Regions from separate parts of the Homo sapiens genome. Here region 2 is linked to region 1. Evidence: fine-mapped expression QTL. A gene starts in region 1. The other region holds a variant in brackets. All regions are shown on one strand. Distances are from middle to middle. Region 1 holds the start of RIMS3 (regulating synaptic membrane exocytosis 3). Region 2 overlaps RIMS3 (regulating synaptic membrane exocytosis 3).

Evidence for each region. PIP is the estimated chance that this variant, and not a neighbour inherited with it, causes the effect. A credible set is the group of variants that fine-mapping cannot tell apart.
Region 2: its variant is the best candidate, but not a certain one, in a credible set for the expression of RIMS3 in whole blood (INTERVAL, PIP 0.89).

What each region holds. Positions count from the first base shown.
Region 1 is chr1:40,664,199-40,667,103 of GRCh38, forward strand. It overlaps RIMS3 (regulating synaptic membrane exocytosis 3), which reads right to left and starts at 1,484. Exons shown (of 8, transcript NM_014747.3): 1 at 1,196-1,484. LOC105378675 (a long non-coding RNA gene) reads left to right here. Exons shown (of 2, transcript XR_947238.3): 2 at 1,790-2,905. RefSeq lists a silencer at 1,200-1,629.
Region 2 is chr1:40,638,468-40,641,372 of GRCh38, forward strand. The region is part of intron 3 of RIMS3 (regulating synaptic membrane exocytosis 3); the gene reads right to left. Among named protein-coding and RNA genes, the nearest start is that of RIMS3, 26 kb to the right of the region's middle. The variant C/G (reference allele first, on the strand shown) is at 1,463.

The DNA.
Region 1 (2,905 bases):
AGCACAGGGCACATGGGTCACCTCCCCAGCACATCCCTGCCAACCCACCCACCCCGCCTCCCAACCAAGAATGCCCCATTAGGCTACCCACATGCCCCCAGGGACAGTTGGCAGCTGCCTGATTACAGACTAATTGGTGGCTGGCAGCAACTATGGTGGGGTGGGGGAGATGGCTCATTAACCCCTTGTTGACCAGGCCCAATCCTCCTCCCATGACTTCAGGCCCCAAACCCAAGGAACCCAGACTTAAGAAGTCATCATGGATAGAGGACAGGACCAAAGGAGCAGCAGCCTTCTTCCCTACATCCTGATAACACCCCTGGGGCTAGGGTTGGACACATATTCACCCAGGTGTCCAAGCCCTGAAGGACCACATTGAAACAGGCCCCAAGTGGCAGTGCCAGCCAATGCCCCCTGTTCTCCAGCCTTGATATGCCATTGCCCACCCCATTCCAGGATCCTTCCTGAGCCTTCAGGACCAGGACACTGAAGAAACCCACTCCTCAGGGCTGAGTTGTCCAGAGGTGATGGGGACATGGAGTCCAGGTACCCAGGCGGCCAGTCAGGGAAGAGCTCCTCCCTATGAATGAGAGCATGCCCAAGTTGCCCATCAAGGGTCCTGCCAAGCCTCCCTGAACCCTGGGCTCTGCACCATGCTGCTGACCAACTGCATTCCCAGCTTCCCAAAGCCCCCTCTTCCCACCCCAGGGCTGGAGTAAGCAGCACTCCTTTTCTTTTATGGGGTGGAGGGGGTCCTCTGGACACCACAACGGTGTCACGTTGAGGAAAAAGTGGCTGCTTCTCAACCAGGGCACAGGCAGAAGGGAGAAAAGCAGGCTGCCTTCCAGCTCCCTTTCCAGGAGGGATTTTAAGCACTTTCCAAAAATGCCATGCCAGGCAATGCTGTTGAAGACCAGGGCCCCAGGAGCTCTGAGCATCAGCAAAGAACTCAAGACTCTGGGCCCCCTTCCCCATTTTCCAGGCTTCCCCAAACACCCCACGTCCCTCTCTCATCCCTTAGTCCCCTCCCCAGAGCCCTCTCACACCCTGTGTTCATCCCCCCACCCCCGCCCCTGCACACTCACATACCTACGTTGCGCTTCATGGCCAGAGCCCCCCTCCCCCCGTGGTCCTCCAGACCTCTGCAGCCCCCTCCCCACGTCCACTCCCAGGCGAGCAAGGCCTGCTGACTTACCCGGAGGTGGGGCCGGGGTCCAGACAGGGAGGGGGCCTCCACAGGCCGAGGCGGCTCCGCAAGGCGGGGCAGGTGCTGCCCCGGGACCCCGCCCCGCGAACCCGGCAGTAGGCGCGGCCCGGCCCCAGGCTGGCGCGGACTCCGAGTGGATAGGCACGCGGGGCGGGGAGGGGCGGCGAGGGAGGCTCACGGGGGCATCGCCCGCCACCACGGGGGCAGCTCCGCTCCGCCCGCCTGCGCTGCCGGCTCCGCAGCAGCCACCGTTTTCAGTCGCCGCCGGGTGCAAAGCCCAAGCTTGGGCCGGCGGGAGGCGAAGGGGAGGCGGGGCCTGCCGGGGGCGGGGCCGCGTGGATGGGCGGGGCCAGTGGGCCGGACCTTGGTGGTGGGCGGGGCCTAGGGGAATCCGGGGAGTTTGGCTTGCCGGGTTGTGGTTGGGGGACCTACATTAATGAGGCTTCCAAGAAGCGGGGTCTGGGGAAGCCTCATTCCTCTCCGTGTCCCTAGGACTCTCTTGCCTCCTGCCCGGCCTCCCCTCTCCACCACCTACCCTATCTGTTCTTTCTCATCCTTCCTTTTCTTTGGGGCACCTCCCAGGACCTCACAGGCACCACGGCGCCCCCTGCCCTGCCCTGCCCTGAAGCAGTTCCAGGAACGTCAGATGGTAAGAGAAGAAACGACTTACAAACGTCAAGTCCATTTTACAGATGGAAAATCTGAAGCTCAGATAGGAGAAAAGACTTGCCCAAGTGCCTGGTATGAAGAGAAAGACTTTATAATGTCCCTTTCAGACAGAAGGAAGTAGAGTGGCCGGCCCTGAAGCCCAAGTTAACCTGCTTCCCCTGCGCTCTCTACTTCTAGAGCAATGGTTTTAAACTTGGGGCGATTTTGCCCCCCAGGGAACATTCGACCATGTCTGGAGACATTTTTGGTTTTCCCAACGAGGAGGTTGCTACTGGCGTCTCATGAGAAGAGACCAGGGATGCTGCTACACGCCTTCAATGCACAGGACAGCCCCTGCGCCAGAGAATTGTCAGGCCCGAAATGTCAGCAGGTTTCTGAGGTTGAGAAACTCTGTTCTAGGGCCTGGCATCTGCCTATATAAACTTCCAAATAGACTCCTGGAGTCCTGGGTTCTTCTGCAGCCCGGGAGGATACTGTATGAAGTCTTTCCTAGGGTCGTGCCTGCCCCAACTTGTATATTTAACCTTGCTTAGGACTGGTCAGTTCCACTCTTGGGCTCCAGTGTTTTGAATTCCACCCACTGACAGAGAGGACAGAATAATTAATATTTGCTGGAGGCATGTAAAACCAGTAGTCTCCCTGCTGAGGGCATGAATTAAAATGTAAATGGGAGCTGGGTGCGGTGGCTCATGCCTGTACCAGTGTTTTGGGAGGCCAAGGTGGGTGGATTGCTTGAGGCTGGGAGTTCGAGATCAACCTGGCCAACATGGTGAAACCCCATCTCTACTAAAAATACAAAAATTAGCCAGGTGTGGTGGCACACAACTATAGTCCCAGCTACTCGGGAGGCTGAGGTACGAGAATCACTTGAACCCAGGAGGCGGAGGTTGCAGTGAGCCGAGGTCGCACCACTGCACTCCAGCCTGAGTGACAGGGGGAACTCTGTCTCAAAAAAAAGTAAATGGGGAGTGGGAAGGTGGGGAGAAAAAGGAAAATTATTGGGATTAAAGGATCCTCCTGGGGATTGCT
Region 2 (2,905 bases), 26 kb before region 1:
CAGAGACCAAAAGACTCCAGGAACCATCCCATCTGTCCCATCACAAACAAAGGAGGGGCACTCACAGCCTGTACCACCACTCCCTATGGCATCTTCTGGAATGGTCCTGAGCCCTCTCTCTACCCTGACCCAGATCCCAGAGTCCAGAAGGGGAAAGCCACTGTCCCTGGTACTGAAAATACTAGCTCCGTTTGGGCAGGGGCTGGGACAGCCCAGGATGGTCCTGTGTAGACCCAGCCAATTGCCAGACCAGAACCCACCTGTGTCCTGGACCCAAAGCTCTGACCCCACCCTCCTCACTGCTCCCACGACTTAGTGAATGTCAGATCCAGAAGGAAACTGGGAGAGAGCATTTTAGCTCCATTTTACAGAAGAGGAAACTGAGGCCCAGCGGAAAAGTAAATTTCCCGAGGTCCCATGGTGAGTTACAGAGCCAGGACTAGCCCTCTAAAGTGAGTTTTTGTAAGTCCACTCTAGGGCAACAAGAGGAATAAACTGGAAGAAGGCAGGCAGGAGGCAGGAGAGCTAGAGAGGAGGGTGGTGCAATCGTCCAGGCTAGATATTATGGGTCCTGTACTAGGGCAGGGGCTTTGAAACAAAGAAGGATGGGCAGAGGTCTAGCCATTGCACAGTACGGACACACCAGGAGGAAGGAGGCCCTGGGAAGGGCAGACCTGAGCCCAGAAGACAGAGTCCAGGAGAGGAATTCCTCCCCACTTCACACAGCCCAGCCCTGCAGGGAATGGAGCCATCTCATCTGTCAGGAGTGGGGGCACCCTTCTAGGTCTTTCCCAGAACAGTTTCCAGAGCCAATGCCCATGAGTCTGCCTCATATATTCCTCTGGCACCAGATGCTCCCACCCATGAGGTGGGTCCGAGCTGGGATACTGGCATCCTCAAGGCATGGGGGCAAAAAATGGAGAAGGAATTCTAGATGGAGAGGAACGTGCTACAGGGAAGGAGCAGAGGTGTGGAGGCTGAGAACTCACTTCTCTTTTGGCTTTATGGTACAATGGCAGGTAATAATAACAGCATCAACACTTCACTGAGTGCCTATACTATGTGCCAGGCATGAAGCTGGGTGCCTTTGCATACCCTATCTCACTTAATTCCCTGGATAACTCTGCAAGGCATGTATCATTGCCCTCATTCTACAAACAAGGCAGCAGGCTCAGAGAGGTGAAGTAACTTGCCTTAGTCACCCGGCTAGTAAATGACAGGGGATGGATCTGAACTTGAGGTCGTTCTCCAGGAACATGCTTTCTCCCCAGGCTCTGGATGCCTCATCAATAAAATAAGTACAGCGTACTAGATGATCTCAAGGGACTCTCCTCACTCACATTCAGCAATTAGCTGATTCACAGAGACCTTCAGTTAGAAGGGCATCTGGGCAGTTCCCCTAGCTCCAGTCCTTTAGCCATGCCCTTGCATACCAAGGAGACAAGGGATTCAGAAGCCCCAT[C/G]ATCATTCATCTCTTCTCAAGATGAAAGGTCTTCCTGGTATCTGCTCCAATCCCTGCCTGCAGCCTGTAAAGTCAAGGCAGACCACTAGAAGGTTCTCCCAGTGACTCAGGTCCCCATCCTGGCCTTGGAAGACTGTCCCCCCAAATCACTTTGGGCATGAAGAAGCCTTTGGGTCTGAAGCTGAATCAGCTGGATTTCTGGGCTTGGTCCCCTGGAGCCAGACTCCCGGGGTCCAACACCTCCACGACCTTCTAATCTTAATCTCACTCCTTAGTCCTATCTCAGCCCCTTCCTTGTCCCAGCCCAATTTCTAGATCCCTAAGTCCCCATCTCCCTGACTCTCTAGTACCAGGCCTAAACTGCATATTCACAGAGGCCATGCCCACTCTAGGGCTCTGATAACCTCAAGCCCCTTCCCCACCTATAATAGCTTTCCCCAGCGAGAAACCACATCACAGCTTGATTGCTGGAAAAGACCAGCCCACGTGCTACTGTCGACGGCTTTGTATAAATCTATTTTAAGGCCTGGAAAAGTCCCCCACCCCCAGCCCCAACTGGGAGCCTTGATGAGCATTCTCCCTGGATCCTCCGGAGCCCCCGCCCCCTCACCATCCCATCCAGCTGCCTATTTGAAGGTTTCTGGGGAAGTTGTTACTCTGAACAAAATAAGCCGGAAGAGATTTTAAAACAAAACCAGCTGGTGTCTGGGCTGATACCACAAAGTGAGGAGGTCTTGGTGGGGAGGGCTGGCTCCTCTGTGATGTGGGGTCTATGTATGTCACAAGGTGGTCACCCACCAGGCTGAACATAACTGAGATTCTGCAGCTAGGTGTCTGAAAAAGGATACTGTATTGATGAGGATGGAGCTGTTAAGGTGTGTGTGAATGTGGCTTTGTGATGTACACCTGCACACATGTGACATGTTTCTGTGATCTGGGTCTGTGCATGTGTAATCAGAGGGCTGTGTCTGTGTGGTTTGCATGACTGGTTTTATCTGTGACCATGCGCAGTGTGAATTACTCTATTATGCTTCCCTGGAAATACGGGCAGCTTACCAGAGACACTGAGCGTTCTATTTATGTAACTGCACAAGTCACACATCTTTGTGTGTGTCTCCCTTGTGCTTTGTAACATATACATGGGACTACAGAACTGCATTTGTGTGGCTATTTGTATTTAGGAGACTAGGAGATTACAGGCGAGACTGAATCTTTTTTGTTTTTTAAACCAGGGGGTCTCACTATGTTGCCTAGGCTGGTCTCAAACTCCTGGGCTCAAGTGACCCTCCCGCTTCTCCCTCCCAAAGTGCTGGGATTATAGGTGTGAACCCTGCACCCAGCACTTGAGACTAAATCTTATGGATGTGTATGTCTGTAAAACTGTGGTGTCACTTACACAGTGCCAGGATCATAAGGCTGTTTAATAAGTAATTACTGGTTAAT